Linked DNA regions of Homo sapiens. The protein of the gene in region 1 interacts with the protein of each later gene in a pairwise test. Each region holds a gene or a part of one and is shown in the gene's direction. Other genes may lie near its edges.

Region 1 (7,000 bases):
AAGAGCAAAAATGTAACTATCCTTTATGGGCATGAAACCTTCCAGAAGCTGCCCTGGCCTGTAGCCTTCACCACAGAACTTGGGTCTGGGGTAGACACAGGGTCTGGGGCACATAGTTTCAGTTAAACAAAGCAGTTCTCTCCTTCGTGTAAGCAGAAATTGAGATCTCTTTCCAGTGACCTCAGAGGGAAGGGCGGAGGAGATTGGGTGCTGCCCAACCTGTGCCCCACTTGCTGCCTGACCACAGACATTTGTAGGGCCTCCCTGGACAGGAACAAGCATCCTCCAGCAGTTTCTGATGAGGAATCCTTTCATTTTCCAGCAGCTTGCAGAGGAGGCCAGGGGAAAATATGGTGACCACAGAAGGCCTGGATCATGAGGGTTGGGAGTAAAGCTCTCAGATGAAGTTGTCAAAGATGGCACCATGGCCTTCGTTGTTGGAGATGGGATATGCCTCAGTGTGTTACTAGATCCTGATTGTTATTTGGGAACTCCGGGATGTGATCATTCCTGAGGTTTCTTCCAGCTCTCAAATCCCAAGAAAGCATTTGTGACAGATTAAAGCAGGACAGCAAAAACATGCCGCACCCTGGTCCTACATCACTAAAATAAATCCCAAAGTACTGAGCTGGGATCTGGCCTCAGAAGGCTTCTCAAAGCCCTGTGCTGTGCCGCTGCCATGAATTGTAGCTGATTTATGAGATAAAACCTAATTACCAGCGCTGGTTTAGAACATGCTTTTAACACATTGATTTTCTTAGCCACTTGATGAGGCTTTTAGAATAACCCACTCTGGCTTTCTCCTTCTAAGCTTCTGAGTAGTCCACGAATGCCTGTAAGAAACAGAAACCCCCAAAACTTCTTGGGGCTGTGCAGAAGTTTGAAGTTTGCACTCTTCCCGCTGTGGGGGTGTTGACTTAGAATTTTTTAAGAAGTTAAAATGGTGATTCAAACAAATCTATAGTGAATCTGTGTCAGAGAGTTGTGTAATCGTCATGAAGGAGGCAGCATGATGGTAAAGATGGTGGACAGAGAATCCGAGGTGCTGGTGAATGTGGCCCATGAACGAGAAAGCTGAGCCAAAGCCGATGCCCGACCCGGACAGTACAATTGCGGTTTGGGGCGTTTGTAGCCTAATCGTCTGCAATTAGCACCTAACTCTACTGAGCGTGAACCCTAGTCAATACTAAATAGTAAGGCCAACAAACTGACCTTCCCTTGGAGAATCGGGTGCCCTTTAGGAGGAAACCTCTATATAATAGTCTGGGGTGACCCTGAAAGGCTAAGCAGTCATCTTTTTGCCTCATTTCCCAGTTTTGGACAATTTTTTTTATCACCAAAAAGTAAAGTGTGATTTGAAGGAATAGAGAAGTTTCTTTTGGCCCCTACTGCCACCCCCAAGATCAGTCAGGCTTGAACCGGCAGGTGACCCCAACTTGTTTATAGCATGGGGTGCAGCCAGCATCACCTGCTAGTGATGTTAAAGAAGCAGCAGGAGGTTCTCAGGGGTGAAGCAATGTAGCATTTGCATAATTGCCTACAGGGGCCCACTCGCCTCTAACCTCAGTGGTTTGCAGGCTCCATGGTGGGCGCCCCACCTGCTCCCTACTTCCCCATCAGTAGCTTCTCAGTGAATTCTTTAATCTATCGAAATGGAATCAAAATTCAGCCAGGAGGAAACAGTGGGTAAATTCTGTAGGTCACTGGGAATAATGAATTTTTGTAAGTGTTGGTTGTGATACGTCTCACACTGATAAACTTCATAAGGTAAGTTGTCGACTGAGGAAGCGGCATGAGAAGGGAAAGAGCAGAGGCTGGCCCAGCGTGCCCCTGTGGACACTGTGCACCTTTAGGCGGTTTGTGATTACGGCTGGTGCCCACTGGGCATCAGTGAGGGTGCTGCGGTGTGTGTGTGTGCATGGCTGTGTGCACTGATGCACATGTGTATATTTGGAAAGGCCAAAAAGAGATTTCCTGCCAACTGGCAATACAAAAAAGACCCCAACCTGCCAACACGTTTTGCCAGGAAATCGGTGAGTGTTTTCAAATGCCCTGTCTTATAAATGTAACCTTCTTAAGTTAGCAAATGCTTGCTGTAAAGTATATCTGATACAGACTCATTTTGGATCTCAGAAAATAGAAGAAAGAGACCAAAGTGCTGTCTTTATCCTTTAAAAGTGTTAGCAGAAACAACCACCACCACCACCACCACCAACTTCTCTCTTTTGACTTTGCTGATCAGATGACTGAAGCATGGGAAAAAAATTCTGTGCCTTTCCCAAACCAATGAAGACACTCACTAACTTAATGTTTCCTTAAACTCAGCATTTACAGAGTAGATTATGGCTTCAGCAAAGGCTGTGATGCCTCCGTGCCATGTGTCATGGTGTTTGTCTGGTTTTCTGTAGGCAAACTAGGCGTGGCAACTGCTGGCTGCGTGAATGAAGTTACAGAGATGGAGTGCGGTCGCTCTGAAATCGACGAGCTGATCAAGGAGGTAAGCAGAGGCAGCATTTCAGGGGTCTGGCCCTGCCAGGAGGAGTCTCATGTCTTCTGGCAGGGAGGGGCACCGTTCTTGCTGTATGAAGGCAGCCAGACCCTCGGGCTCGCTGAGGAAGTGGCATCTCCACCTGTACAGATCTGGAACGGAAGGACTGGCTGGGCGCCCCCTCCCCAGGCCAGCTTCTGCCGACAGGTCAACCCCTCACGCCAGATCCCTCCTTCATCCCTAGGGCTGGGCCTGAGCTGCCGGTTATGTGTCAGTGAAGTTCCTTCCAGCTCCAAACTGTTCGAACACTTTGGACAGCAGTCTTTTAAATGGCATCGTGAATTCCCTTGCCTTCCTAGCAGGCTACAGAGAACAAAATGTAAACTTTCCTTGCTGCCTGCGCTTGTCATGATGGCGGGTGTTGTTGTACCAGCTCTCATGGCTATTTGATTGCTTCCTTTTTAATGTGCAGTTTTTATTCCTTAACGGATTGGAAAGCTGGATAACCAAGCATGTTCACATTGCACATAAATTCCTAACAGGCTACAAGGGAGAGCATAATCGGGGCCTCCTTAGGCAAGAATACATGGCTTTTGTATACCCATTTCAGCTATTGGGATGCCCTTTTCTTCTGTCTTTGGCCTCTTAACTATGCTTTTCATGGGTATTACAAGGTGGACATTTGCATGACTAAACCTCGTGCAGCCTTTGCAAAAGGTTGTGTGTGAGTACTGCATAAATTCTTCTTCTTAATAACATAGCAATAATGGAATCCTTAAGAGTAGCTTGGCTGTCAGAGAATGAAGATAACAGAATGTAACCTACCCGAACGGCCTTGCTCTTCTGCACAGGCAGCTGCCAAGTGTCTGGGTGGTCTTTGGCAGCCGACTGAGTGAATTCTTGGCTTCGTGGCCCTCCACCAATGTCCTGTTTTCTGTAGAAGGCTTTTCTGCTGACTCAGCTGAGAGAGTGAGATAATCGGATTGCCACACCGGGGTCACAAGAAAAGCAATTTCAAAACATTTCATAATTGGATTTATCAGCCTCCTTTAAGGAATGGGCCAGAGATTGAACATCTGCATGTGGCTCGTTGAGCGAGATTCTTGAAAGCATGGCAGCCTTTGGCCAGCATCACTGTTCACTGGTGTCTCAGAGCTTGTCTGCGTGTCCAGGGCGTTGAGGGCAATTGGATAATCTGGAACACTGGGTCTGCAACAGGCAGGTCGTGGAAAGGGCCAAGAAACTTATTAGTGGCCCCCAAAGAGCCTAGTAATTTGGCCACATGGTTTGAATGCTAAGCCTGGTAGATTTAAGGCCTAGGGCCTTTCAGGTTGCAAAGTGAAACTTGACTTTTGTCTCCTGAGATAAAGGTGACAATATGGTTTTACTTACACATGAACTGTTCATTTTTACAAACACTGGAGCCCCAGGTGGGAGATCAGTGACTGAGCTGCCCTCCTCTCCCTCCCCTGACTGTGCAGCCTTCTGTGGACGATTACATGGGGATGATCAAAAGGAGCCCTTCCCCGCCGGAGGCCTGTCGGAGTCAGCTCCTTCCAGACTGGTGGGCGCAGCAGCCCAGCACAGGTGAGGGTGGGTGGCCTAGAATTGTCACCAGGCATGGCCTGAAGGGTTTACGGCATTCCACCAGCCAGGGACGGAGTGGGGGTGGTTGTTGCTATCATGATCCATGTCTCATTAAAGGTAGCTCAGCCCTGAGAGGTGAAGAACGATGGCCCTGGTTTCCCAACATGAGGGCAGAGCCCAGCTGTGCCTTTGGCCCTGCTCTCCGCTGCTTCTCAGGAGGGCACAAGCTGCTTGTTCCCTAGGTGATGTCCATGCCAGCTCTCCCCACGCTCCTGGGAAAGTCCAGGGAAGAGGGTCTAGTGAACTTGTGTAAGGCCAGAGGGAAGATGCAGCTCTTGGCCACGCTGGCGCCCCCTCCCTGGGTACTCCCTTAGGTCGGCCAGTCTGTTACGACATTAAGGACCCCCTCAGAACCAAAGAGAGCCCAGGGCATTTGGAGGAGAGGAGAACTCAGACCAGGAACAGGAAGTTTGTTCAGAGCCCTAGATTTGAATCCCACGCTGGGAAGTTACAGATCTTGAGCCTCAGTTTATTCATCCGTAAAACAGAGAAACCAGGACTTGCGCCATGGGGTCACGAGGGTTAAGTGAGGCATTCATCCTTTGATTCTCTTTTGATGAGCCACTCAGAACCCCCAGCTGCTTGAAATGCCCCCGCCCCCGCCAGGCCCAGGCTTCTGCAGCCGGTGAATGTGTTTGCTTCCTCCCTCGGCGTCTTCCCCCTAGCCCTACATCCCCTGTGGGAGTCTGGGAGGTGGCAGCTGGCCCCGGAGGCCTTGAAGGTTGCCAGGCCTTGGGTGTCGAGTAAGAGGTCCCTGGAAAGGCACCTCTGTCTGTGCTGCAGGAACACCATCCGGAAAGCTAGCTTGCACCCCCAGGCTCTCCCCCAGAGATAAGCCCTGGGTGGTGGGTATGCAGTCCAGTGGTATTCTGGGGGTAAGTGCTTGAGGTGGGAAGGAAATGTGGCCCCACAGTGTCACATTGACACATGGTCAGAAATCCCACAGCATAGAGGAAGTCCCCCCGACTTGCCACTCTGGTTTTCTGCATTTGTGAAACAATGGCTCTCTGCTCTGGTGGGGAAAAGCACTGAATTCAGCGGAAGCCTGTGCTCCCTGGAGCCTCTGGCACGCCATGTGCAGCCTTTTAAGGGACTTTTGGAGAAGGAGCGATTGGGGTTACTCCCTGTACACCACACCTGGGTGGCTCTGAGCTTGCTTTTCTGTTTCTCCTGCAGGCGTGCCGCTGGTGACGGGGTACACCACCTACGACGCGCACCATTCAGGTACGGGGTGGTCCGGGCTGAGAGGGGCGTGGGCACTGTTTGAAGACAAAGCCCAGATAACCCAAGCAGGGTTGCGGGGTTTCGAGGATGAGCAGGACCTGGTGTGGAAGTCTAGGCCTGGTTCCAAGGATGAGCAGGACCTGGTGTGGAAGTCTAGGCTCCGTTCCGAGGATGAGCAGGACCTGGTGTGGAAGTCTAGGCCTGGTTCTGAGGATGAGCAGGACCTGGTGTGGAAGTCGAGGCTCCGTTCCGAGGATGAGCAGGACCTCGTGTGGAAGTCTAGGCCCGGTTCTGAGGATGAGCAGGACCTGGTGTGGAAGTCGAGGCCCCAATTTCTCCTCCTCACCATTTGGTCAGGAGCTGGCGAGTGGCCTCTTTTGAGGCCACTTTTCTTGGACTGGACCAGCAAGTAGACAGAGTACTCTTTGAGGCTGTAACTGTGCAGGAGAGACAGTGAGGGACAGGCCAGCGTCTGTCCCAGCGCTGCCTCTCTTTTGGGGCTGCAGGTGGAGTGGTGGAGCCTCTCAGAGCCTCATCTCAGGCTCCCCTGCCCACCACCTCTAGGTGGATGCAGCTGTTCCCATTTCGCGGGCTCAGGTAGCTTGTGTGCTCCAGACTGGGGGCCTCCCCGCGGTGGGCAGAGGTGGCCTTTGTGTGTAGTCTCAGCGGCTAAGGACCCTGGCTGCACTTCTGCCAGCTGCCCCTGGAAGTGACGCTCAGGCGTGGTGACGGCATCTTCTGAACAAGGAAGCTGGGGCATCTTCCAGCATTGGCTGGTTCTGTGGGAGGCGAGCAGCTGGTCTCATCAGATGGGCCACAGAACGTTAGGGCTGGGCCTCTGGGCAGGGGAGGAAATGGGGCAGGGATAGAAGCGTGCTGGCTGAGGACTGCATGGGACAGTTTTGTGGGTAGCAGAGGTCGGTGCTCACCCAGGCAGGAAAACTGTCGAGATGGCAATGCCCTGTCCATGAAGCTCTTGTCTATTTCCTGGCAGCCCTTTGAGCTGGGGGGTTGTTTTCACTCCGGCTTCACAGATGAGGAGACTGAGGCTGGGAGGTTCAGGATCTCATCCAGGTCGCGCAGGCCTCTGGCTGGAGCCTGTTCTTGAGGCCTCCTTGTGCCCGGCAGCCGCCATGCTCACAGGGTCTCAGTTCTGGGAGGCCTGGGTCATGAGGCTAAGCCTCCGGGCTCGCCAGCCACTGGGCTATGGCCTGGGAGTCTGCTGACCAGTGCTTTCCGGGGGCTGTGGAGTAGCCAGGCACAGAACTGAGCCATCTCGGTGAGATGCAGAGGCACAATTTGGGGAGAGCATGTCCTTGAATTAGTCCAGCAGGGTCATAGCCACTGCCTCATGCACAGAACATCCTTCTAGAAGCTGTGAGCTTTGGTACCTCTGTCCAGCCCCGCCCCCACCTCTATGTAAATCCATGCTTCAGTTTCCTTACCTGGAAAATGGGTATAATAATAATCTACCTTACAGGGTTAAATGTGCTGGTAGGTCCCAAGCCCTGGGCACAGCACCTGATATGAGCTGTGTAGACCATAGTCTGTGGTTTATAACTTCAGGAGTCTTGTCTGTGTAGATAAGCATTTGTCCTGTTACCCAGTTTCTTTAACTGGTGCTTACCTGTGCCGAGCACA
Region 2 (16,056 bases), on another chromosome or scaffold:
ACTCCAGCCTGGGCAACAGAGCAAGACTCCATCTCAAAAAAAAAAAAAAAAAAAAAAAAAGACTACACCTTGGGTAGAATGTACACTGTTCAGGTCATGGGTCCCCCAAAATCACAGAAATCATCACTAAAGAACTTATCCATGTAACCAAACACCATGTGTTCCCCAAAAACTACTGAAATAAAAATTAAAAATATAGTTAAAAAGAACGGGTGAAGTTAGCCAGTTGTGGGTGCACATGCCTGTAGTCTCAGCTACTGGGGAGGTTGAAATGGGATGCTTAAGCCTAGGGGTTTCAGTCCAGCCGGGCAACATAGCGAGACCCCATCTAAAAAAAAAAAAAAGAAAGAAAAGAAAGACGGCCGGGCACGGCGGCTCACGCCTGTAATCCCAGCACTTTGGGAGGCTGAGGCAGGTGGATCACGAGGTCAGAAGATCGAGACCATCCTGGCTAACATGGTGAAACCCCGTCTCTACTAAAAATACAAAAAATTAGCCAGGTGTTGTGGCGGGCGCCTGTAGTCCCAGCTACTCTGGAGGCTGAGACAGGAGAATGGCGTGAACCCGGGAGGCGGAGCTTGCAGTGAACCGAGACAGCGCCACTGCACTCCAGCCTGGAAGACAGAGTGAGACTCTGTCTCCAAAAAAAAAAAAAAAACCTAAAGACAAGAAGGGGTGAAGTCAACTGCTGGGCTTTTTTGTTTCTCTAGCCATTGTGAAGACAGGAGTGAGTTGCCAGATTGGCATATGTTGCATCCCACTGAAGGCTAGTGGACATGAATCTCTAGGGAACAGTCTCCCCACTGCATACTTTCTTCAGCTGTGCTTGGCTGTTTGGGAGCTAACAAAGAGAAAAGGTGCATTTGGATTCACACAGCGTTGGTATTCTTACCAAATCCATGTGACAAAAAGGCAAGGGGGCAAAAGAGCTTACAGTAGTGGCAAGAGTGTTGTTAAAATTATAGATTATGGAAAATATGCAGGCCTAGAAGTAAACAAAGGAGAAAGCCCTCAGACTGTGAGAAAGTGGAGAAGTCAGTGGCCTAGAGCTACCAAAAAGGTAGAAGAGGGGCCACGGAGGGGCCATGCAAGTCTGCAGACACTTTTGTTTTCAGACACCTTTATTCACGTCCAAGACAATCAGGGAAGGGGATAATGTTCGGTTTAGAAGGTAGAAAAACACAACTGGGATCTGCAGCTTTGAAGCCACAAGTAGATTCATATCTCCGGTCCACCACTTACAAGATATGTGACCATGGACATTGATTTACACTTTTTGAGTCTGTTTTCCCTTTTTTAAAATTAGGAGAATAATACTATCTTATAATTGGTGTGAGGATTTAAAGAGATAATGCATGTAAAGCGCTTAACACAGTGCCTGGCACACAGTAAGAGCTGAACACATGATGTTACTGTTATATTTGGAAGAGAAACCAAGGCAGGGGTACAATGAGGACAACTCTGAGCGCCGAAGTACTGTAAGGTGGAACTTTTGGATAGCTAGGCGCATGCGTCTGTCTATGGGCGCTCTCCTAGCGAGGACGCTGCGCATGCGCCGGAAGTTGCAGCCGGGAAGCCTGCGAGGTCGGTTCCGCCCGACTCTAACATGGCGGCGCCCTTTGTCTGCTCTGGAGTGCCGTCCCCGGCCTTCTCGCGGCCGTGATGCACCTCCCTCTGCGGTGGGGTCCGGGACATGGCAGGTGAGTGTCAACAATCGCCCGGGGCCGGGGAAGTCCCGGGAGCCGGGGCGGAGGCGGCGGAGGATGGGGCGCGGTGGGACGCCGGTGACGGTTGTGTGGGGGAGGGGAGGGAAGTGGAATGGGACGCCAACCGGGGCTGAGGGGACACCGCTGGGCGGGAGATTGTGGGGTGGCGGGGCGGGGGGCGTCGCCGGGCGTGCTGGCGGGGAGTGGGCGGCCAGGCGACCGCCCGGGCGAGGGGGCGCGTGTCACCTCCCGGGCTGGATGACACCCCAGCTGGTAGCATCTCCGCCCCCGCCGCACGGCTGTCACCGCCCCTTGACCCCGCGCGCTGTCGAGGGTGGGCGTTCTGCGGCCGCGAGGGAGCGCAGTGCCGGGGCAGCTCCTGTCGGCCGGCCGGGGCGGGAGGGAGCGGGGCTGCCCGGGCCTAGGAGGAGCTGACAGAGGAGGCCGACGCTGTCCCTGTATAAAAGCATTTCATTCATTCATTCGTACTGCGGACGGTGGTTCAGCACCTGATAGATGGTGAAGCTAGAGCGAGTGATGCGGGCGGACTCGATCCTCCAGGATCCTCGATCCTGGAGTTAGGAGTGTGAACCGTGGAGCCCAGCAGCGGGGTTTGAATCCCCATTCCCTGCTGTGACCTTAGGCACTTTTGGCTTTTTCTCTCTGCCTGGGTTTATTCATCCTTTAAGCAGAGATGATAATAAAATCAGCCTCCTAAGATTGTAATAAAGGGGAAATGAGGCTCCTAGAACACTTATGGGTACAAAGTAAATGCTGTGTGTTTGTTGCTGTTATTAATTGTATCACCATTGTCACCCAGAGCTCAGAGACCCATGTGGGAGACATACAGGTAAATCAGCAATTCTGATACTGCTGCGAGGGCAGAAAGCCCTCCTTCCTCTGAAGCACGGAGTAGAGACACATCACTCAGCCTAGGGGGAATCCCGGGAGGCTTCTGTCCCCCAGAAAGCTAAGATCTAAGGGAAGCTCAGCGGAGTGAGGCAGGAAAACGGGTATTCCCAGTTAAGGGTGTAGTTTGTGAGAAAACTCATCTTCGTAGAGAGAGGAGAGAGAGATCAGGCTAAATAAAGAAGCAGACTGGGCCGGGCTCGTTGTCTCACGCTTGTAATCTCAGCACTTTGGGAGGCCCAGGCGGGCAGATCACTTGAGGTCAGGAGTTCGAGACCAGCCTGGCCAATATGGTGAAACCCCCGTCTCTACTAAAAATACAAAAATTAGCCGGTCGTGCTTGCGCGCGCCTGTAGTCCCAGCTGCTCAGGAGGCTGAGGTATGAGAATCGCTCGAACGCAGGAGGCGGAGGTTGCAGTGAGCCGAAACGGCGCCACTGCACTCCAGCCTGGGCGACAGAGCGAGATTCCGTCTCAAAAAAGAAAAAAAAAAAAAGCAGCAGCAAGCTGTGGTCTGGTCTTAGGGGACGTTGTAAACCTAGTTAAGGACTTTAAACTTTAGGTTAATGGGAAGCCATTTAAGAATCAGATCTGTGGCCAGGTGCGGTGGCTTACTCTGTAATTCTAGCACTTTGGGAGGCCAACGTGGGATGATCATTTGAGCCCAGGAGTTTGAGACAAGCCTGGGCAACATGGCAAGACCCCATCTTTATTAAAAGAAAAAAAAAAAAAAAGGAAAAAAAAAATAGCCGGGCATGGTGGAGTACACCTCTGGTGGTCCCAGCTTCTTGGAAGGCTGAGGTGGGAGGATTCTTTTATTTCCAGCCTGAAATAAAAGAATCAGGTTTTTTTTGTTTTTGTTTTTGTTTTTTTTTTTTGAGACTACGTCTTGCTCTGTCACCCAGGCTGGAGTGCAGTGGCAGCATAATCATAGTTCACTGCAGCCTTGATCTGAACTCAAGTGATCCTTCTGCCTCAGCCTCCCAACTAGCTGGGACTACAGGCGTGCACCATAACACCTGGCTAATTTTTTAAATTTTTAGTAGAGATGGGGTCTCACTATGTTGCCCAGACTGGTCTCGAACTCTTGGCCTCAAATGATCCTCCCGCCTCAGCCTCCCAAAGTACTGGGATTATAGGCATGTGCAACCATGCCTGGCCACGAATCAGATTTGTGGATTAGGAAGATCACTCTGGCTAAGTGAAGAATGTATCAAAGGGAGTGGGCCTGTAGGCCAATTAAGAGCCTGCTAGAATAATCCAAGTGAGAAATAAAGGTGTGAGTTAAAGGCAGAGAGTGAGGAGAGATGGTTTTAGCGATAGAATTGACACAATTTGGTGATTAGTTTGATGAGAGTTAGGGGCAGGGAGGAGTCAGGATCACCCCAGTTTTTGACTGATGGGTGTTGGATGCTGCTCCATGTGATAGGGAGCAGTACGGGGAGCAGATCTGGGGGAGGGCAGATATGTTTAGTTTTGAACATGTTGGAGTTGGATGCCTGTAAAACATTCAAGTGCACCTGTTCAGCTAGTAGTTATCACCATCAAAGGTCACTGAAGTCATGGGAGGGGATGAGCTCACCTAGGGTAGGGTATGCAATGAGAAACAAAGTGTCCAGGATATCCCAGAGCAGTGCCAATGCTGCAGTAATGCTTGGATACAAACCTTGTCGTTTTTCCTTCTTAACATTGTGTCCTGTCTCTTATTGAGCTGGAGTTCTTGAGAGCAGGGCCTGAGGCTGAGTCTGTGCATCTTTGTGTCCCAGTGTCAGCATGCTATCTGGCACAGAGCAGGCCATTTATTCAGCACTTCCTTGGGCCAGGCTCTGTGCTAAGCACTCTGTATTTGTCTATGTTTGATGGATGCATGAAAAGGCAGCTCTGAGGGAGCAGGTACCCTTTAGGTTCTCATCAGATTTTCCACTTGTGTGTCATTGATTCAGGTAATGAGCCGGACGAGGGGAGCCAAGCTGGAGTTTACACAGGCAAACTGTCAGAAAAGAGTAGCCTGGGCTGTCTGGAAATCTGAGGTATGTCTGTAATACTCAAGGATGAAACAAATCAGATCAGTTTGTCCTTTTTCTCTAGGTTCAACATGATTCAAATGATTCTTTCCTGATAGCCTTTTCTTCAAAATTATATAGTAATGACAAAATCCCAGTTACAGTTTGGTTGGGAAATTGTTGATCTTACTATTATTGTTTTACCTGCAGAGAGAGGCCAGAGTGGATGATCACTGGGCAATGCTCACGCCTTTAGTTAGGTGAAATCTACAGTGGTGGAAACAGAAGTTTATTCCTTGCTCCTTAACATTCTGGAAGTACACAGTCCAGAGCTGGTAGCACAGCTTGCTGTGTTCTGTGAGATCATCTGGGAGCAGGATTCCTTTGATAATGTGGCTTTTCTTGCTCAAACTTAGGCTTCCATCTCATGGTCCAAGCTGGCTGCTGTAGCTCCTGCCATCATGTATGATCTCCCTAGGGCAAAAAGGGACACAGAGCAGCGAGCACACACTCATTCCTTTTAAAGTTCTAATGTTTAAGGTGGGATTTTTGTGCAACATGGTTCCCAAACATAAGCCAGTTCCTGCATCTGGTGCACAGCTAAAGAACAGATTGTGACTGTTTCAGTGCTGGAGAAAAAGCTGGCTGAGAGAACCTGCTCTGTCCTCAGTCTGTCTGGATTACTCTCTTGGGGGTGTGATCCCAGCCTGAGGGGAGGTCCACTGAGTCCCCAAGGCAGGCTGCTCTGGCTTTGGGTAGGTTTACAGGGCTTGGGCCCAGGGAGGCCAGGCTTGTTTATCCATTCATTGTTTCTGTGCCCAACATGTGTCAGGCATTGTGCTGGGTGCTAGGGATGCTGGCACAAGTAAGACTGAATCCCGGGAGCAGGTGCTCCCAGCCATGTGTATCCTCACAATGCAATGCAGGAAATACCTTGGAGGGCTGGTGGAGGGTGTGCGCACACAGGGAGGATGCACTGGCGCTGGAAGGCTTTCCTGAGGGGGTGAAGATGTTGCAAACCGCGCATTTTGGACTGATCACTGTAAAATTCCCCTTGGACAGGTAGAGGCAGCTAGGACTCTGGGGTCAGGTGTGAATCTGCCCTCCCGTTGAGTGGCTCTGTGTCCTGACAGTCAGTTCCTTCTGAAACTGTGTCCCAAAGAGTTAAAAAAAAAAAAAGTAATGACTATTAATTTTCCTAATCACAAGATTGTCTTCTGACACATCAGACAGCAAGCCTTTTACTCAGTTTCATTGCTGAGCCTCAGTTTCCTCATCTGTAAAATAGGGATGACAGAATTGTTTGGAGAATTACATGAGGACAGGCAGGTAATTCACAGAATTGTCTGGAGAATTACATGAGGTCAGGCAGGTAATTCACAGGGTTTGCTGCATAGTGCAGCACTCCCCAACCTTTTCGTTTTTTTTTTTCTGTCAGCAAAATATATATTTTATATATATAGTGTATATATATAGTGTGTGTGTATATATATATAGTGTGTGTGTATATATATAGTGTGTGTGTATATATATAGTGTGTGTGTATATATATAGTGTGTGTGTATATATATATAGTGTGTGTATATATATAGTGTGTGTGTATATATAGTGTGTGTGTATATATATAGTGTGTGTGTATATATATATAGTGTGTGTGTATATATATAGTGTGTATATATATATAGTGTGTGTATATATATATATTGTGTGTGTATGTACATATATATATATACATACACACATACAGAGAGAGAGAGAGATTTCCCCCACCCACCCACCTACCTACCCAAAACATGTGTCTTAGTGTTTGATTTTTTTTTTTCATACACACAGAATAGGGAATTTCAGAATTTTTACATACATTTTAGCAAACAAGTTTTGATCTATTGGCTTCTTGGTGCAGTAATGGTGCCAAAGGCTCATACTATTACAAGGAAGTTGTGAACACTGATTTCTCAGGAGGTGAGGCCAGCCCCACATGAACTTCTCTTGCATCCCTCTGGTCCACCATGATACATAACTACTTAGACTTTTTTTTTCCCTCTATTGAATCATTAGATATTAAAAATGGAACAACAGAGTCACAAAGGGCCACATGCTTTTCAGTAGAAAGCATTCTCCTTCTCTAGGTTGCTATCACAGTGCAGACCTGACTGCCTGAATATGCTCAGGAGATTTAGTCAGTATTGTCTGTATTTGGTTATGGAAAAGGCTCTCCTGGCTGGGCGCGGTGGCTTACGCCTGTAATCCCAGCACTTTGGGAGGCTGAGGTGGGTGGATCACGAGGTCAGGAGATCGAGACCATCCTGGCTAACATGGTGAAACTCCGTCTCTACTAAAAATACAAAAATTAGCTGGGCGCAGTGGCAGGCGCCTGTAATCCCAGCTACTCAGGAGTCTGAGGCAAGAGAATCACTTGAACCTGGGAAGCGGAGGTTGCAGTGAGCCGAGATCACGCCACTGCACTCCAGCCTGGGTGACAGAACGAGACTCCATCTCAAGAGAAAAAAAAAAAATTAGCTGGGTGTGGTGGTGGGTGCCTGTAGTCCCAGCTACTCGGGAGGCTGAGGCAGGAGAACCCGGGAGGCGGAGGTTGCAGTGAGCTGAGATCACGCCACTGCATTCTAGCTTAGGTGACAGAGTGAGACTCTGTCTCAAAAATAAAACAAAAAGGCTCTTCCTTTTTTTTTTTTTTCTTCTTTAAGTCCAAAGTGCATAGTGAGAGCAAATCAAAACTTTTTTTATTTTTCCTTCTCAGCATCAGTTTCATGTGAGCATCTTCCCATGAGGGCTGCTCAGATGTCTCGCCTTTGTCCTCCTCACCCTTCAAAAATAAGTGAGAGTCAAGCAATTTAGACATTTATCAGCTTGGCAAATAAACTTGGCAGCAAATAGAAGTCCTACTATTGTAAAGAAATTGATAAGACAAAAGGTACATATGATGACCCAACTACTGTGGTGTTGGGTAATTTATAAGGTTGACCTCTGACTTCATTGATGTAAAATCCTATTGGAAATATGACGGCAGCCATACAGAAAAGCATCATCCCAGTGAATGCTATCCATCGAACATATTTTGTAGCTTCTCTTCCCCAGTGGGAAGCCACCAGCAAACCACATGTGACAATCAATGGGAGGGCAGATTCACACCTGACTCCAGAGTCCTAGCTGCCTCCGTCTGTCTAAGGGGAATTTTACAGTCAATGAAATGATTCCCATGATGATAAAAAACAGCATGGTGACCCACTCCAGGGGAAGCTGGGGAGGGATGCACATCCCCTCTCGTCCACGCATTGTTTGACACTGTCCCATGAGGCCCACAGTGAGTGCTCCCACAGACTCCCTGGTGTTGAGCCAGTCTGGGTTGGTGATGCTGGCGATGGCGAAGATATTGGCAGTCAGAAAGAGACATCCTGAGATAATGGTCAATTTATCATCTCCCTGCCCTGCTCCCCCCACCCTCCGAGGCCCAGGCAGGCAGCGGCCTCACACTTCCCACCCCATGAGCGGCCTCTGGGACCTGGAGTCCCCACACTACTGCCTCGTGCCCCCTCGGCCCCCGTGCACCTAGGACCACCAGCCGTGGCATGGCCCGCAGCCCCCAACCTTTTTGGCACCAGGGACCGGTTTTGTAGGAGACAATTTTATCACAGAAAGGGGGCTGAGGGGTGGGGGGTGGGAGGTGGTTTCAGGTTGACTTAAACACCTTACATTTATTATGTACTTTATTTCTATTACTATTACATTGTAATATATAATGAAATAATTGTACAACTCACCATCATGTAGAGTCAGTGGGAGTCCTGAGCTGCTTTTCCTGCAACTAGACGATCCCATCTGGGGTTGATGGAAGACAGTGACAGATCATCAGGCATTAGATTTTCATGAGAAGCTCACAACCTAGATCCTTCACATGTGCAGCTCACAATAGGGATTGAGCTCCTGTGAGTATCTAATGCTGCTGCTGATCTGACAGGAAGCGGAGCTTAGGTGGTAATGGCAAGTGATGGGGAGCGGCTGTAAATACAGGTTGAAGCTTCGCTCACTTGCGTGCTCACTCGCCCGCCACTCACCTGCCATGTAGCCCACTTCCTAACAGGCCACGGACCAGCAGTGGTTTGTGGCCCAGGGGTTGGGAACCCCTGGTATAGTGGACATTTATGAAATGTTACTTACCTCCTGCTGCAAGGTACAGGCTGGTTGGAAGCTGGAGGCCAGTCAGGTTTGAAGTTGAGGAAGGCCCAAACCTGTGGGGACGCCAGGTTGCCATCCTGCCCTGTGGCAGGGGCTATCCAGGTTGTGCATGGACAGTCAAGGACTACTCTGTGCCCCTTCTGTTTTCTGGGAGAGTTCCCCCAAGCTTTCTAATTAAAGTCATCAAACCTTGGCTACTCAGAGACCATATCCTGAGAGATCTGGTAAGGGGTGTTTTGAGGATTCTCTCTGCCTGTTTAATTCCTTCAAGTTCAGATGCTTCTGGGAAGCCTTTTCTGAGCCATTCCCAGTTCCCCCAACCCAAGTGAGTTTGGAGCCCCTCCCCTGCGACTTCTTAGCATCCTGTTTTTGATCTCTATTAACACATTTTCACCTCAATTATGATCCGAGGCTTCCTTGCCTGCCTTCCCATGAGACCGCCAGCATCTTGGATGCAGGACAGGGTCTTATTTATCCTGGTACTGCCACTGTGTAGCTTGTTTCCTGGCACACAGCTGGCGCTCAGCAAGTGTCGGATGAGTGGATGATCAGCCTTGATTGGCTGAGGAGGAACTGGCATTTGGGGCTGGAGAAAACTCCATGTAATTGAGGGCTGAGCATGCTTCTTGTTTATTGGGCATTTGGCTGTCATATGGGAAATAGACATGGTGAACTCTGACCTTAACTGTGAGAGTTTTGGTCAGAAGATGGTTTCTCTGTCTTTTTGTCTTGTTCCAGTATAGCAGGGTTTCTCAACCTTGACACTTCTGACATTTGGGGCCAGATAAGTCTTTGTTGTGGGGGGTGGGTTTCTGTAGCGTCTCTGGCCTCTCCCCATAGATGCCAGTGGTAACTCTTCTCCAGTGGTGACACCCCAGAATGTCTCCAGATATTGCCAAATATCTCCTGGCACAAAATCACCCCCAGTTAAGAAACCCCTGCAGTATAGGGTAGCAGTTAGGAACACAAACTCCTAAGCCAGGCGTATGTGGGCTTATGTTTGCTTCTTATAATTACTAGCTGTATGCCCTTGGGCAAAGTACTTGACCTTTCTAACCCTCAGTTTCCTCAGTTGTAAAATGTGGATAATAGTTACCTTGAATATAACTTTATTGGGTGGAATTATTAATAAGGTCATGCATGTAAAGTGCTTAGTCGAGTCCCTGGCTCCATAATTACTGTTATTTGATAGAAGACTCTTGAGGGTCAAAAAAGAAAATATGCAGAGTTTAGGAAGAAAACAACATTTACTATGGGAATGCATGCACAAGGTAGAAAAATCAGAAGGTTCTCAAGCGTGTACCTGTGGAAAGTAAGTTACCCCCCTCTCCTCCCAGGAAACTTTTTTTTTTTTTGGTAGAGACAGAATCTCGCCGTGTTGCCCAGGCTGGTCCCAAACTCCTGGGCGCAAGCAATCCATCTATCTCAGCCTTCCAAAGTGCTGGTATTATAGGCTTGAACCACCAAACCCAGCCTCATATAACACTTTTTTTTTTTAATTAGGGCCTTGCTCTGTGGCCAAGGCTAGAGAGCAGTGGAGCTGTCATAGCTCACTGCAGCCTCGACCTCCCTGGCTCAAGCGATCTTCCTGACTCAGCCCCCCAAGTAGCTGGGACTACTAGCACACACCACCACACCTAGCTAATTTTTCTGTTTTTTGTGGAGATAGGGTTTCGCCACGTTGCCCAGGCTGGTCTTGAACTCCTGGGCTCAAGTGATCCACCTACCTGCGCCATCCCAAAGGACTGGGATTACAGGTGCGAGCAGGGGTGGTGTCCTGTGGGGTGACCCATTGTTGGGTTTGACATCACAGTAGGGAGGGACCTCAACTTTAATGAAAACAAAAAACTCCAAATACATTTTATGTACAAAACATATTGTCCTGGAGATCATAATCTACTTCTTTTGCTGGCCACGGCTTTTTTTTTTGTTTTTTAATTAATTAATTAATTAATTTAATTTTTGAGACAGGGTCTCGCTCTTTCGCCCAGGTTGGAGTGCAGTGCTGGGATTATAGCTCACTGCAGCCTCGACCTCCAGGGCTCAAGCGATCCTCCCACCTCAGCCTCCCGTGGCCACAATTTTTAAATGGTTGAAATAATAGAGGTCAGAGAGTAAGTACTGTGGCTCATTGAACCTTGCTGCGTGTGTGTGGAATGCCAGCACAGAGAATCCTTATGGACATCAATAGTTTGACAGTCCCAGGGTGATTAAGGTTGACCTCAGTAATGCAGTCAGCACAGATACGTGTAGAAAACTGGGGCTTAGGCTCTTGGATTCAAACGTGCTTGTTATGAATTGAAGAGAGATGGTTCGTAGGGCTGGGCTTCAAAGGAAGGAAGCAAAGGGCATGGTTAGAACTGAGAGTTGTTCACTCATATCTAAACAGCAGTGTGGACAGAGGCTCAGAGGTGGGAATTCCCGCTGCGAGTGGAGAGCGGGCCAGAAAGCAGGCTTAGTGGGTTCATTGTAACATCAAAAATCTACTCAGCTTCTGGTCTTGAAAGGTCTGGCAGTAGAATCTGTTCTCCCCACCCCAGCCGCACCACTTCCTATACTGGAACTTATTAACCTAAGCAGTCACTTTCCTGTCCCGAGTGGCAGGCTCCACTCGAATTTCGCCAGCCTGCCCCATGGGAAGCTGTATCACCAGAGCTCAGAGAGCAAAGCACTTCTCATTTCTGTAGTCTCGGGGCCATGTGGGCCCCTCAGGGATTTTCCCCCGTTACTGTGACTCAGTCAGCAGCCCAAATTAATGCTTGGCAAATGATTTAAAGTAAGAAAGAACTTGTTTAATTTTGTAAATCGTTTTTGTTAAATGTTGACTCCATACAAAAGAATGTGTTCAGTGTAAAGAATAAGGATACAAGAAACATCTTCCATGTACCCATTACCCAGTTTCCAAAAAGAACTTACTGTTACCTTTGGAGTCCCCTGTGTCCCCTCCCTGATCTCACCCGGCCCAAGTCATCCCTGAGTTTTGCTTTTATCACTCTTGCTTTTCTTTATAGTTTTACCATGTGTTTGTATTGCTAAACAATGTACCGTTTAATTCTGCAGGTTTTTGAACTTAATATAATCATATTGTTTTCTTCAGTGCCTTGACATTAATCCACGTTGCATAGAGTGGTATTTCATTTTCACAGATGAATAATGTTCCATTGTATGAGAATTTATTTATCCTTTCTATTACTGGTGGACATTTGGGTTGTTTCCAGTATTTTGCTGAGACAAACAGTGCCACTGTTCACATTCCCGGGACATGTATGCACAGCCTCTCCAGGGACTGCAGCTGGGAGTGGAGTCACAGGGTATGTGCGTCTTCAACTTAACAAATAATGCCAAGTTGTTGCCAAAACTGTTTCCCCAGTTTACCCTTCAACAATTCCGTTTGCCTCATATCCTCTCAACAATGGTATTTTCAGACTTCAACATTTTTACTAATCTGGTGGGCGTACAATGACATCTCATGTGGTTTTGATTTGCATTTTCCTGGTTCTGAGTTGGGCATCTTTTCGTTGCTTACTGATCATTCAGATTTCATCTTCTCGGAAACAACAGATTGTCTTGCTCATTTTTCTATTGGGTGGTTTGTAGACATTTTGTTAGTTTTTTGTTTTTTATTTCTTATTTTGGATACTAATTCTTTGTCAGTTATATGTGTTATAACTACCTACTTCCAGTTTGTGGCTTGTCTTTTCACTGTAGGATATTGTTTTTTGTTTTTGATGAGCAGAAATTCTTTTTTTTTTTTTTTTGATACGGAGTCTCACTCTGTTGCCCCGGCTGGAGTGCAGTGGCGCGATCTCAGCTCACTGCAAACTCCGCCTCCCAGGTTCAAGCGATTCTCCTGCCTCAGCCTCCTGAGTAGCTGGGATTACAGATGCGTGCCACCACGCCTGGCTAATTTTTTTTTATTTTTAGTAGACGGGGTTTCAGCATCTTGGCCAGGCTGGTCTTGAACTCCTGACCTCATGATCCACCCATCTCGGCCTCCCAAAGTGCTGGGATTATAGGCGTGAGCCACCGTGCCCGGCCTGTTCTCTGTTTAAATACCACACTGACTTGTAAAATACATCATTTTAGAAAACTGGTGAACTGGTGTCTAGTAAATCCTTGGCCCATTGCTCTTCCATTTTCATTTTATTTTTTTCTGAGACAGGGTCTCGCTCTGTCACCCAGGCTGTAGTGCAGTGGTGTGATCTTGGCTCACTACAGCCTTGACCTCCCAGGCTTAAGCTATCCTTCCGCCTCAGCCTCCCAAGTAGCTGAGACTAGAGGCACACGCCACCACGCTCAGCTATTTTTGTCTTTTTTGTAGAGACAGGGTTTCACCATGTAGCCCAAGCTAGTCTTGAATTCCTGGGCTCAAGCAATCCTCCCACCTCAGCCTCCCAACGTGTTGGGATTACAGGCGTGAGCCATCTTGCCTGGCCCCATTGTCATGTTAGATTACATTTGTCAAATGCCATAAAAATTGTTGGTATGTTTTATTAGAATTTGCATTGAGTTTATAATATATAAATTTGGGTAGAGCTGACATTTTTATGATGTTGAGTCATCTGATCCATAAATGTGGTATAGCTTTCAATTTACATAACTTATCAAAGTCTAAATTTAGTCAGTGTCTTTATACCTTACTCTCAAACAGTGAGGACCTGAGAACACTTTAATTGCTATCACTTTCTCTTCCACTTTTATTCTGTGGGTGTGCATTTTAGTTCTTTTTAAACCTTTTTTTTTTTTTCTCTCTAGAGACAGGGTCTCGCTGTTGTCCAGGCTGGAGTGCCGTGGCACAATCGCAGCTTACTGCAGCCTGGACCTTCTAGGATTATGCAATCCTCCTGCCTCAGCTTCTCGAGTAGCTGGGATCACAGGCACTCGCCACCACACCCTGCTAATTTTTACTTTTTACTTTTTTTTTTTTGGTAAAGACAGGGTCTCTTTTGGTAAAGACAGGCTGGTCTTGAACTCCTGGGCTCAAGCACTCCTCCTGCTTTGGCCTCCCAAAGTGCTAGGATTAGAGGTGTGAGCCACTGTGCCAGTCCTTTTACAACTTTTATGAGCATCATTAGTTCAGCATTTGTTTAGGTTTGCTCACTTATATATATACTACTTTCATTGTTCTTCCTTCCTTCTTGCATTTAATACTTTTCTTTCTGGGATCACTTTCATCTGCCTGAAATATGTGTTTCATAAGGTGTAAATTTGGGCTGTAGTCCTTTTGGGGGACTGCTAATCATTATACATTCTCAGGGAAGATTTTTCCCTCCTCTGTTCAGCACCAAGATTTGATATAGGCAGTTTCTGTATTGTCTTCTTTCCACCAAGGTTCAGTGAGACCTCCCTCTGGGGATGGGGTGGAGGGTGGGGCTCAAGCTTGCCCAGTTCTGCAAATGTCTTTTCTTGAAACCTGGTTTCAAAGCTCCACTTGCTCTCTGGATTTCAACCCTTGTTTAGATGTGTTTTGACCTCTCAGTATTACTTACTGACCTATCAGTTCTTTGATACATTTTATTTTATTTTTAACTCCTCTTACTATCATTCCCAATCTTTAATGCATTTTAAAAGATGTCTTATCATTTTTAGTCAGCATTTGTGGCTGTTTGCGGTGGGAGAATTGGCCAGGGCACCTTTGCCAGAAATGGAGTTGTTTCATAGTTTTCATTTTGCAGTTCATCTGGCAGCAGCAAACTGTGAATATATTAATGCTTAGTAATGTTCACTTCTGGATTGTGTGAGTCTTTTAAAATTAATTAATTTATATATTCTTTAGAGATGGGTTCTCACTATCTTGCCCAGGGTAGTCTCAAACTCTGGGGCTCAAGCAATCTGCCTGCCTTGGCCTCCCACAGTGTTGGGATTACAAGTGTGAGCCACTGTGCCCAGCCTTGGATTTGCTTTATTTTTTTATTTTTTTTAGAAACAGGGTCTCGCTGTTGCTCAGGCTGGAGTGCAGTGGTTACTCATAGGTGCAATCAAAGCTCACTACAGCCTTGAACTCCCGGCCTCAAGTGATCCTCCTGCTTCAGCCTTTCGAGTAGCTGGGACTACAGTCATGTGCCACCGTAGCCAACCACTGCTGGGTTTTATACGATGTTTTATCGCACTCATTAGTATAAGGAAGAGAGATTGTTATGTGCCTGTGATGACAGAGAATTTGTCCATTTGGTACAGGCTCAGGATCTGTTGAACCCGGTATTCTGTTTGTCCACAGAAGTTTTGTCCTTTTCTATAGCGGAAAGGGCACAGTTTTTAGAGTGTGATGGATTTGGCCTTGAATGTGGGCAGGGCTGTGCAACCTAGGTCAGCAACAACTTCTTAAACTGTGATTTGCTCATCTGCTCAATGGGGGTGACTGTATTAGTCCCCCCTCCCAGGATCATTGTGAGCACTGGTGAGGCGGCATGAAACACTGTGCGTGCGGCACCACAGCAGCTCTGGCCCTGACTCCCTTCATGGCTGCTGTGGGTTATGGTCTATTTGCAAGGGAAGCAACCAGCCCGTGAGTTTCTCTTGCCAGTAACCTCCTCTGGAGTCTCAGCAGATGGAGCTGTTAGTAGCAAGGCTGAGTTTCCTCTCTGCACAGGGCACAGTTCCACCCACAGTCCCTTATCAGGAATCACAATTTTTATTTCATTTTATTTTATTTTTTATTTTATTCAAGATAAGGTCTCGCACTGTCACCCGAGCTGGAGCAGCAGTGCCACAATCTCAGCTCACTGCAGCCTCAACCTCCCAGGCTCAAGTGATCCTTCCACCTCAGCCTCCCGAGTGGCTGGGACCATAGACACCTGCCACCACACCCGGCTAAATTATTTTGGATTTTTTGTAGAGACGGGATCTCACCATGTTGCCCAGGCTGGTCTCCAACTCCTGAACTTAGGCAATCCTCCTGCCTCAGTCTCCCAAAGTGCTGAGATTACAGGCACGCGCCACCTCTCCCGGTTTACTGATAAAGCATATATATTAACATCGTAAAATATACTTCTCCACTGGGACCCCCACCCCATGTCGTCACCCCATGTCGTCACTAGCTGTGCCTCCGTCTCCATCCCATTCCCCCCACCTCCCTGGTCTTACTAGGACCAGGAGCCAGGTCACACTTGGGGGTGGTCTCCAGGTTTCTCTCAGAAGTTTGCACTTCAAAGCGGCTGGCGGGTGGGAGCAGCTTTGCTGATTGATCGCTGCCGCAGGTGGTAGGGATTTGAGGGGCTGGAGGTCAGCAGCGCTGTTTGTTGAAGG

Evidence for each region.
Region 2: the proteins of IRF8 (region 1) and ZBTB17 interact in a two-hybrid assay, tested with the Homo sapiens proteins (one study listed by BioGRID).

What each region holds. Positions count from the first base shown.
Region 1 is NC_000016.10:85,909,162-85,916,161, forward strand, and holds part of IRF8 (interferon regulatory factor 8), read left to right. Parts: coding exon 1-12; intron 13-2,408; coding exon 2,409-2,497; intron 2,498-3,969; coding exon 3,970-4,075; intron 4,076-5,311; coding exon 5,312-5,359; intron 5,360-7,000. UniProt on the Homo sapiens protein: Transcription factor that specifically binds to the upstream regulatory region of type I interferon (IFN) and IFN-inducible MHC class I genes (the interferon consensus sequence (ICS)). Can both act as a transcriptional activator or repressor.
Region 2 is NC_000001.11:15,961,627-15,977,682, reverse strand, and holds the start of ZBTB17 (zinc finger and BTB domain-containing protein 17), read left to right. Parts: upstream 1-1,581; 5' UTR 1,582-1,700; intron 1,701-4,557; 5' UTR 4,558-4,644; intron 4,645-10,039; exon of another isoform or gene 10,040-16,056. UniProt on the Homo sapiens protein: Transcription factor that can function as an activator or repressor depending on its binding partners, and by targeting negative regulators of cell cycle progression.